3 linked regions of the Homo sapiens genome follow. Each later gene encodes a partner of the first gene's protein in a complex. Each region holds a gene or a part of one and is shown in the gene's direction. Other genes may lie near its edges. The genes, in order: PRPF8, PRPF6 and LSM3.

Region 1 (3,650 bases):
GCCACCACGCCCGGCTAAATTTTTTGTATTTTTAGTAGAGACGGGGTTTCACCATGTTGGCCAGGATGGTCTCAATCTCCTGACCTCGTGATCCGCCCGCCTTGGCCTCTCAAAGTGCTGGGATTACAGGCTTGAGCCACCGTGCCCGGCCCAGCAACGCATATTCTTGAAACATCCACTTTGACCAAATCTCTTCTCTACCTCACAACTCTTGCTGAATTAACTCTTCTTTAGCTTCCTAGACGTTCAACATCTGGCTGGGCTGTATCTGTCCAGCCAGTTTCTCTTCCTTTACATTTATAGCATGTTTCATCTTACATTCAGTCCAGGATCTTAGTAGCCCAAACCCCTGATGCTCATCTCCAAATCTGTGTTTTGCTTGTATTTTTCTTTCTAGAATGAACTCCCCTCTTTGCTCTGTTAATCACAGTCCCTCCTTAAGACACGTTTTTTTGTGCAGCTTTTTTCTGATCCTAGTAGCCTTAATTTCTTTTGTTCCTGAACTCTGTAAAACAGTGTATAGTTTAGCACATACTCATGTGTCAGCTTGTGGTATTGTCTTGTTGAAAGGGGCTGTCAGCCTGGTCATTGGACACGGCCATTTGATACTCTTTGTACCTTCTAAGTGCCTAACATTTAACATCAGTGTTCAATAGAAACGTAGTTGGATTATTTCAAAACTAGGATATTCTGTTCTAGTTGATCTGGGAGGGTAGAGACTAAATTTCCATTTTCTTCTCTCTTGCTTTTAAGTTGGCTAAGTGGAAGACAGCTGAGGAGGTGGCCGCCCTGATCCGATCTCTGCCTGTGGAGGAGCAGCCCAAGCAGATCATTGTCACCAGGAAGGGCATGCTGGACCCACTGGAGGTAAGAGGGTGGGGTGGGGTAGGAGAAAAGAGACCTTGAGACCTTCAGGCTGTTTCTCATCTTGGACTTGATCTTGTCTTAGGTGCACTTACTGGACTTCCCCAATATTGTCATCAAAGGATCGGAGCTCCAACTCCCTTTCCAGGCGTGTCTCAAGGTGGAAAAATTCGGGGATCTCATCCTTAAAGCCACTGAGCCCCAGATGGTTCTCTTCAACCTCTATGACGACTGGCTCAAGACTATTTCATCTTACACGGTATGAACCTCGGGAAGAGAAGATCGCTGGAGGAGGAGCGGGTTTAGGGTTAGGAGAAGATCCTGTGTCAGGTTTTTGCCATTTTCACATTTTTAGCCTATAGATTGGGTGGGAACTCTGTTGACTTTCATGAGAGTTTAAGACCTTAAAGTTAAAAATCAACTCTTGGGGCCGGGCGTGGTGGCTCACGCCCGTAATCCCAGCACTTTGGGAGGCTGAGTTGGGTGAATCACCTGAGGTCAGGAGTTTGAGATCAGGCTGGCCAACATGACGAGACCCCATCTCTACTAAAAATACAACAAAATTAGCCGAGTGTGCTGGGATGCACCTGTAGTCCCAGCTACTCGGGAGGCTGAGGCACCAGAATCACTGGAACCCAGGAGGCAGAGGTTGCAGTGAGCCGAGATGGCACCATTGCACTCCAGCCTGGGCGACAGAGTAAGACTGTCTAAAAAAAAAAAAAAAAAGGCCGGGCGCAGTGGCTCACGCCTGTAATCCCAGCACTTTGGGAGGCCGAGGCGGCGGATCACGAGGTCAGGAGATTGAGACCATCCTGGCTAACACAGTGAAACCCCATCTCTACTAAAAATACAAAAAATTAGCCGGGCGTGGTGGCAGGTGCCTGTCATCCCAGCTATTCGGGAGGCTGAGGCAGGAGAATGGTATGAACCTGGGAGGCGGAGCTTGCAGTGAGCCGAGATCATGCCACTGCACTCCAGCCTGGGCGACAGAGCAAGACTCTGTCTCAAAAGAAAAAAAAAAAATTCTTGGGTTTCATGAAAGGTTAGGATTAAAGTGGGAGAGCCTCAAGCAGCTGACCTACCCCACTCTTCCAAATCTTTTCCCAGGCCTTCTCCCGTCTCATCCTGATTCTGCGTGCCCTACATGTGAACAACGATCGGGCAAAAGTGATCCTGAAGCCAGACAAGACTACTATTACAGAACCACACCACATCTGGCCCACTCTGACTGACGAAGAATGGATCAAGGTCGAGGTGCAGCTCAAGGATCTGATCTTGGCTGACTACGGCAAGAAAAACAAGTGAGCAGTGCTGGTGGGGACACAGACAGGAGGTCTATATACGGTTTTCTGGGGTTTTTTGGAAGCACTTAGGCTTAGAAGTTTCTCAAGAAGGCCAGGCGCGGTGGCTCATGCCTGTAATCCCAGCACTTTGGGAGGCCAAGGTGGGTAGATCATTTGAGGTCAGGAGTTTGAAACCATCCTGGCCAACGTGGTGAAACTCCGTCTCTACTAAAAATACAAAAGTTAGCCGGGTGCGATGGCGCCTACCTGTAATCCCAGCTACTCGGGAGGCTGAGGCAGGAGAATTGCTTGAACCTGGGGGCAGAGGTTGCAGTGAGCCGAGATCATGCCACTGCACTCCAGCCTGGGCGACAAGAGTGAGACTGTCTCCAAAAAAAAAAAAAAAAAAGACGTTTCTCAAGAAATTATCTTGTCTTAGCCAGGCTTGAGTGCTCATGCTAGTAATACCAGCACTTTGGGAGGCCAAGGTGGGAGGATTGCATGAGCCAGGAGTTGAAACCAGCCTGATCAACAAGAGACTGACGCCATCTCTACCAAAAAAAAAAAATTTAAAACAGGTGTGGTGGTACACGCTTGTAGTCCCAGCTTCTTGGAGGCTGAGGCAGGAGGCTTGCTTGAGCCCGGGGGTTTGAGGCTGCAGTGAGCCATGATGATGCCACTGTACTCCAGCCTGGGTAACAGAGCGAGACTCTTGTCTTGAAAACAAGGAAAGAAATTATCTTACAGAGTCTCGAGGAAGAGAGATACAGCAGTGTCTTCGAATAGTATGGGAAGCATCCCTGTTTTAGGGCTTCAGTCTGACTCTTGGCCATTGTTTCTCACTGTTGCCATTTCAAACAGGGCATTTCTTTACTGTCCATACATGGGAAGAATTTTGAACATCCGAGACCCTAAGTATCCGAGACTGCTGCCAACACACACACACACCTTCCTCCCCTCGTCTCCCTCCCTGTCATCGTGGCAACCAAAATTATCCATAGGGTGACGGACAATACCACCTCTGATTAAGAACCAGTATTCTAGGGTTTCTGGGGTTTCCATTTCTGAGAACAGTTCCATGCCAGAGCATTGTTTTGGTCAAGGAAGCGTAGGGTTTATGGATGCTAAACAGTGGGAAGGTGCACACGCAGTGTGCTGTCCCGCTTGGATCTGACGAATCTTGGAAGTGTTAGTGCACCTCCGTTTCACACTTCCTGTAGAAGCAGCTCTTGTGGATTGTCTGGGGCGTGAGTATAGGCTGTCCTGTCCTACCAAGTTACACCCTTTCCATTGAGGCAGAAGTGACCAAGGGGAAGGGATCCTTGTAATATAACCCACACCATCCCCACAGTGTGAACGTGGCATCACTGACACAATCAGAAATTCGAGACATCATCCTGGGTATGGAGATCTCGGCACCGTCACAGCAGCGGCAGCAGATCGCTGAGATCGAGAAGCAGACCAAGGAACAATCGCAGCTGACGGCAACACAGACTCGCACTG
Region 2 (3,650 bases), on another chromosome or scaffold:
GTGAAGAGCTGAGCCGGCACCTGGCACGTGCAGACCCGTTGTGGGTGTTACTCATTTTCTCTCCTGAGAAGGCACCAGAGCCACACGTTGATTGAACTCTTTCCTGCTGCTGACGAGGCTGTGCCTTCTGCTCCCGCGATGCAGCGTGTGCCGTCAGCTCAGGTCAGATAACGACAGACGGTGTGCCTACCAGGCAACCTGATTCCATCCAGGGATTCCTGCCAGGGTAGAGCTTTTGTGGGTAGTTTGTTTATTTTTATTACTGTGGATTCATAAAAGGAGCACTGTTTCTCCTGTCACTGGAAGTGTGTAGTAGATGCTGCTCTTGAACTGGGTCCAGAACGAGTGCTAGTCAGGGGGCTGTTCTGAAGCTAATCTGTGCAGGTGGCTTCTTTTTTTTCATTTTTTGTTTTTTTTTTCTGGTTTTTTTTTTTTTTTTTTTTTTGAGATGGAGTCTCGCCCTGTCGCCCAGGCTGGAGTGCAGTGGCGTGATCTCGGCTCACTGCAAGCTCCGCCTCCCGGGTTCACACCATTCTCCTGCCTCAGCCTCCTGAGTAGCTGGGACTACAGGCGCCTGCCACCACGCCTGGCTAATTTCTTTTTGTATTTTTAGTAGAGATGGGGTTTCACTGTGTTATCCAGGATGGTCTCGATCTCTTGGCCTTGTGATCTGCCTGCCTCGGCCTCCCAAAGTGCTGGGATTCCAGGCGTGAGCCACTGCACCTGGCCTATGCAGGTGGCTTCTATCCATTTTTTTTTTTTTAGACAGAGTCTCGCTTTGTCGCCCAGGCTGGAGTACAGGGGCACGATCTTGGCTCACTGCAGCCTCTGCCTCCCGGGTTCAAGTGATTCTCCTGCCTCAGCCTCCCGAGTAGCCGGGATTACAGGTGTGCGCCTCCATGCCTGGCCAATTTTTGTATTTTTAGTAGAGATGGGGTTTCCCCATGTTGGCCGGGCTGGTCTCAAACTCCTGACCACAAGTGATCCTCCTGCCTTGGCCTCCCAAAGTGCAGGGATTACAGGCGTGAGCCCCTGTGCCTGGCCTTTTCTTTTCTTTTTTTTTTTTTTTTGAGATGGAGTCTCACTTTGTCCCCCAGGCTGGAGTGCAATGGCACCATCTTGGCTCACTGCAACCTCCGCCTCCTGGGTTTAAGCAATCCTCTTGCCTCAGCCTTCTGAGGAGCTGGGACTACAGGCACCTGCCACCACGCCTGCTTAATTTTTGTATTTTTAGTAGAGACGGGGTTTCACTGTGTTGACCAGGCTGGTCTTGAACTTCTCACCTCAAGTGATCCACCCACCTCGACCTCCCAAAGTGCTGGGATTACAGGCGTGAGCCACTGTGCCCGGCCAGATTTTTTTTTTTTTTTTGAGACAGCGTCTTGCTCTGTCACCCAGGCTGGAGTGCAGTGGCACGATCTTGGCTCACTGCAGCCACCACCTCCCAGGCTCAGGCGATCCTCCCAGCTTAGCCTCCCAAGTAGCTGGGAGTATAGGTCCCACCCCCATGCCCAGCTATTTTTAATTTTTGGTAGAGATGGGATCTTGCTGTGTTGTCCAAGCTTGTCTCAAACTCCCATCCTCAAGTGATCCTCCTGCCTTGATCTCCCAGAGAGCTGGGATTACAGGCATCAGCCGTCGCATCCAGCCTATTCTTCCTGAATTTATAGCCTAGGAAAAATAAAGTGTATTTTATGGAATCAAGGGCAGTTTTCAGTGAGAGCTTTCCAGCTCTTGTTTTTCCAAATGTCTTTAAGCGAAATATCCCATTGAGGCTTCTGTGCTGATAGGACCGTGCAGATGAGGGCTCTTTGGTAGAAAGCCCCTTATCAAATATAGTTTCATTCACTTACTGTCTACGTCTGTTAGAAGACAGGTGAAGGCTGCTTGCCTGTGATGCATGTTCCCCCGACCCTGTGCACTCACATGTGAACGTGCTTTCCTCTGTCGAGGCTGGTTTCTTGACCGCAGCCCAGCTGCTCAGTGAATGCTCAGAGACAGCCTCTTTTATTTTTTTTTATTGAGACAGAGTCTCGCTCTGTCGCCCAGCCTGGAGTGCAGTGGCACGACCTCGGCTCTCTGCAAGCTCCGCCTCCCAGGTTCACGCCATTCTCCTGCCTCAGCCCCCCAAGTAGCTGGGACTACAGGCGCCCGCCACCAGGCCTGGCTAATTTTTTTTTGTATTTTTATTAGAGATGGGGTTTCACCATGTTAGCCAGGATGGTCTTGATCTCCTGACCTCATGATCCACCCGCCTCGGCCTCTCAAAGTGCTGGGATTACAGGCGTGAGCCACCGCGCCCGGCCAGAGACAGCGTCTTATAATGAGGTGGCCAGGAACAGAAAGTTAGCACCTGTCTGGGTTTGTAGAAATCAGTTTATCTTTTTTCAGCTAGGAAGAAATAGTTCTTTGATGAAGAGCCCATGAAAGTCTGGGTAATTAGTATTGTTTACTTAGAAAAGCTCTATTGAATTCTTCCTGCCACAGTTTGATGAATGATCATGAATGTCTTTGTGGCCACTCCCTGCTCACCACCAGATTGTCTGGGTTCATTTCCAGTTGGTTTGGATTTGGAGATGGGAGTATGCTGTTGGAGGCGGGGGCCTTCGGGGAGTGTTGAGGGACTGTGTTTCCACGGCTGTTCTCTCAGGGAGTGGCCTCCTGGCTGTGCTCTCTCAGGCAGAGAAGCTGGGCTAAGGTGGAATGAACCCAGGATCTCCAGGATGGCCTTTGCCGCTGCCCTAATACTGGTCCTGGCCTGCCCTTTCCCAAGAGTGTTTCCAAAAACTGTATTCTTTTCCTGGGGTGAAGCCCAGCACTGCTTCATTTGGTTATTAGCAAACACTTACACGTTGCTTGAAGGGTCTGGTTTTTGAAATTAAGATGACAGCTACTTCCACTGGTGACTTAGGACACCTGCCAGCCAGGGAGCCTGGCAGTGCATGGTCTCTGTGAGCTCTGGGTCGCTGTTGGGCTGAGCTGACACCTTAGTCCTTTGTTGGGAGAATGGGCGTTTTGGGTGCTGATCTTGAGACCTGAGGAGGCTGAGTAACCTTAGGCATGGTGCTTGGCCTCTGAGCTTCCATGTCTTCCTCTGTAAAAGGGAAGAGGGCTTTCAGGATTGGGGAGGGTGCAGCATGTGAGCTTCCTGGCCAGGGTGGGGTGTCCCACGTGCAGAGTCCCCTGGGGAGGCCCGACTGGCAGCTCCCCTACAATAATGCACTCACATGCTGTGTACTCCGCTAGTTAATGCAGATGTGTGGAAGTGGAGTTATTTTACACTAACGCCATATGCTCTGGCCTGTGAAGCGTGGCATCCTTCAGTGGCCGTCGCCAGCGTGTCCCTCTGGGGGCACAGGAATGGCACAGTTCAGGTTGAGGGTCTTCCCTGCAGTCACGTGACCCCCGGAGAGCATGTTGGCCTCTGCACGGTCACGTCTTCATGGCTGTGTCTAGCATTCAGAATACTCTTCTGTTCTAGGCCAACTTCAGGGGTGTGTGCTTCCTCCACTTCTGCTCATAAAGTCACACTCCTTGAAGGCCATTGTATCATGGTGTGCCATGTGGCTTCCGAAAGCACCTGGGGAAGGTGACCTTGTTGGTTTTAGTGCCATGCCTGTGGGCTGCTGATGAGATGCCATGGAGATATG
Region 3 (3,650 bases), on another chromosome or scaffold:
AATACAAAATATTAGCCGGCCGTGGCGGCAGGCACTGGCAATCCCAGCTACTCGGGAGGCTGAGGCAGGAGAATCACTTGAACCTGGGAGGTAGAGGTTGCGGTAAGCTGAGATCGTGCTACTGTACTCCAGCCTGGGGGACAGAGTAAGACTCTGTCTCAAAACAAAACAAAACAAAACAAAAAAAAACCTATCACGTGTTACTGTAAGTAACATTTTTATGAACAATAACTATTTTCTAAAACAAAATTTTAATGAGGAATGTCTTTGTTTTACATTTTTGCAAATCTCTTTAATGCCCCGCTTAATCGATAACAGCTAGAAGATTCTCATATCTTTTTTCTGCGTTAAATCTATCATGAGTTGTTGTTGTAATTGAAGCAAATCTGACCACACAGATAGGTAGTTGGAAAGGAAGGAGTTTGTTTTGTGAATGTTCTACCTTTGATACTACACCCAAACTGAACAAGTGGTAGTCAGTCAAAGATTATTTGCCATCTGGAATCTGAAACGGTAACAGTAAACTTTTCGTACTCTTGTTAGGTGAAAATTCATTAATCTGCCTTGCACCTCAAATGGATCTCTTACTCATGCATGATTTGGTTACATCAGGCACTGGTTCTTTAGAAAATAGTAGTTCACTGGGCTATGCAGATTCATTTTATTTCTTCAGTGTTTAAAAAAAATCACATTTATTAGTTATCACCAGTGATCTTGTCAGAAAGGTCTTTTTTTTTTTTTAAAGACAGTCTGACTGTGTCACCCAGGCTGGAGTGCAATGTCAGTCTCAGCTCACTGCAGCCTCCGCCTCCCAGGTTCAAGCAATTCTCGTGCCTCAGCCTCCAAAGTAGCTGGGATTACAGGCATGTGCCACCACGCCCAGCTAATTTTTGTGTTTTTAGTAAAGACAGGTTTCACCATGTTGGCCAGGCTGGTCTCGAACTCCTGGCCTCCCAAAGTGCTGGAATTACAGGTGGGAGCCACTATGCCAGGCCGTAGCAGAAAGAAAGGTCTTTAAGATTTGGAAAGACAGTTTCTGACCCTGCCAGGGCATAGTGGTTAAAATGTGGGCTCAGAGTACAAGACTACATGGATTCAAATTTTGACTCCCTTGCTTACCACCTTTTTAATTGAGCCAGCTCACCTAACCTGTCTGTGGATATGTTTCCTTGTCTGTAAAATGGGAGTAATGATAGGACCCACTTCATACAACTGTGGAGGATTCATTGAGGGCTACATGAAAAGCCTTCAGATAGTGACAGGCACGTTGTCACTGTTAAACTGTTAGCCTTCACTGGATTTTGTAGTTCTGCTTTATCCTGGCTTTCCTCCTCTCTCTGACCACACCTGACTCCTTTGCTAGTGTTCTTTCTCCTTCTGAGTGTAAACATTTAGCATTTTTTTCTTTTTTTAAAATTTTTACTTATTTATTTATGTATTTTTGCTGGCTTATTTCTCCAAGAAAGAATAGCATTTTTTAAAATCTGCATTTTTTCCCCTTTAGGAATTTCATTTATTAACTATTGTTTAGTGGTTATTGTTTTCTTAACATGGACACAATCATAAGTACTAAGATGCACTTTTTCTTAAATTTTAGCATCTTAAAAATCTGATTGCATCTTACAGGTGATGTGATAAAAAAAGAATTGTGTCATAGTTTAATTGGCAAAATTTATCCTTTTTCAGCTCAACTAAGCTTACAAATGATACCTTAAATGTGATAAAATATGGAATATGTGGCTTTAATATTCTGCTTTATTCATGTAACATCATTAACATAAGAATTTTACCATGAGAGTAGACTCTTCATAAGCATTTTAATGCTCTTGTCTTGAATTCTGCTTGTGACAGAAATGACTCTTCAACTGTGGTGTCTATTACAGAGAAGGGAACACTGCCACTTACTCCATGTTTGCAGTGAACTAACAGCAGGGTCCACCTGTGTCATCCCTAGTAGTCTGCTCCAAGTGCGGTTCCTCCTGACACTGTTTGAAGGTGCTATGTGTCTGTGCACATGTGCATTTCTCTGGGTGGGGTGTCTGTAACAGAGTCTCAGTAGTTACTGACCTCCATTAAGATTAATTGCTGCCTTGAAAGGCTACTGGGGCTGGTTAGCTCCTGAACGCTGCGTGCTGCGTGCATGTGGCCTCTCTTGCGCCTAGAGTTGCAGCTGAGAACAGTAAGCAAAGTCTATTTAGTTAATGAGTTCTTTTTCACATTGCCATGATGTATTGGGTAAAACATTTAAAATTGAATCTTTGGATGACTGAGAATACTTTAGTGTGTAAATGTGTATTAACTATAGACATAGAAAGCAAAGACAGTGATATTATAGAGAGTGTCTGCATCTGGTTCAGTGCCATGGAGAACAACTACTTCACTCTCCTGTGCGCTCTTGTTACTCCTCTCCAAGATGGGAAACCAGACTAAATGGTTTCTTACCTTGGCCCATTTTACATTTCGCTCTCTCTCTCGTCTATTGAAATAACTAATGAACATCAACGTTTTACCACCAAAACAGTATGGGGGACCCATAAACCATCAGGTTGTTGGGTTTTTTTCCCCCTATAACTTACATAATTGACTTCTAAATAATTAATTTGGCTGCTGACTTATAAATGGGAAGGTGGAAAGCAGTCAGTCTTACTCTTCTGATTCTTGGTCCTCCATAATTGGAGTTTCCATTTTACAGATTGTGAACAGTCTGTGTTATTTGACCCAGACTACTTTTTCGGCTGTCCATCATGTGTACTACCTTCCTTCACCAAACACCTCGTAGTTTGGCTCACCAGACAGTTTCTCTTGGGGACGTTGTGCCCTTTTGTAACTAAGCCCTCTGCTCCCTCTGCTTGCCCGAAGGCCTTCTACAGCATCAGATGGCTCTTCTAGACCTTTCTGTAGATTAGCACTGTAATAATAGAACTGTCTGCAGCAGTGAAAATTTCTATCTATGCTGTCATTACAGGAGCTATGAGCCACATGTGGCTATTTGGCACTTCAAATGGATGCTGGTGTGATTAAGGAACTGCACATTTAATTTTATTTAATTTTAATTTAATGAGCCACCTGTGACTAGTGGCACTCATATTAGAGCAGCTCTAGACCTGCTCCCTCATACATAACTAACTCTTTATGGTCCATGCTGAGACCATATGGTCCATATCACCGTATAGTACTTAACACATATTTCTTTTCTTACTCATTTTAAATTGCTTCCATTTTAATTTAACTTTTTGAATAGATACTAGACTCACACAGTCTTAAAATTACAAAATGCAGAAAGGAACACAGTGCAGTAAAATGTCTTCCACTCCAGCCTCTGTTCATCATCTTTACACCCCACCCCCAGACATAAGCACTATTACTGGTTTCTTGAGAATCTTCTCGTGTCTTTATGCATATGCTAATGAGTGTTAGTTATTCTCCCTTCCCCTGTTTTTTTATCACAGTGCTCTTTCCCTTTCATACATAGCTTCCTTGTGCTTTCGTTTTTAGCTTTATGGTACTTCACTGTGTAGATGTACCATAATTTAACTGTTTTCCTGTTGATGGACAGATAGCCATTTCCAATATTTTGCTAGTAAAACCTATTCTGCTGTAAATAATTTTATCTTTATCTTTTTTTTTAATTATACTTTAAGTTCTGGATT

Evidence for each region.
Region 2: PRPF8 (region 1) and PRPF6 share a complex: the UniProt entries of both Homo sapiens proteins name them as parts of the U4/U6-U5 tri-snRNP complex.
Region 3: PRPF8 (region 1) and LSM3 share a complex: the UniProt entries of both Homo sapiens proteins name them as parts of the U4/U6-U5 tri-snRNP complex.

The regions. Positions count from the first base shown.
Region 1 is NC_000017.11:1,653,865-1,657,514, reverse strand, and holds part of PRPF8 (pre-mRNA-processing-splicing factor 8), read left to right. Parts: intron 1-753; coding exon 754-867; intron 868-949; coding exon 950-1,123; intron 1,124-1,971; coding exon 1,972-2,165; intron 2,166-3,498; coding exon 3,499-3,650. UniProt on the Homo sapiens protein: Plays a role in pre-mRNA splicing as core component of precatalytic, catalytic and postcatalytic spliceosomal complexes, both of the predominant U2-type spliceosome and the minor U12-type spliceosome.
Region 2 is NC_000020.11:64,001,592-64,005,241, forward strand, and holds part of PRPF6 (pre-mRNA-processing factor 6), read left to right. Parts: intron 1-3,650. UniProt on the Homo sapiens protein: Involved in pre-mRNA splicing as component of the U4/U6-U5 tri-snRNP complex, one of the building blocks of the spliceosome.
Region 3 is NC_000003.12:14,185,192-14,188,841, forward strand, and holds part of LSM3 (U6 snRNA-associated Sm-like protein LSm3), read left to right. Parts: intron 1-3,650. UniProt on the Homo sapiens protein: Plays a role in pre-mRNA splicing as component of the U4/U6-U5 tri-snRNP complex that is involved in spliceosome assembly, and as component of the precatalytic spliceosome (spliceosome B complex).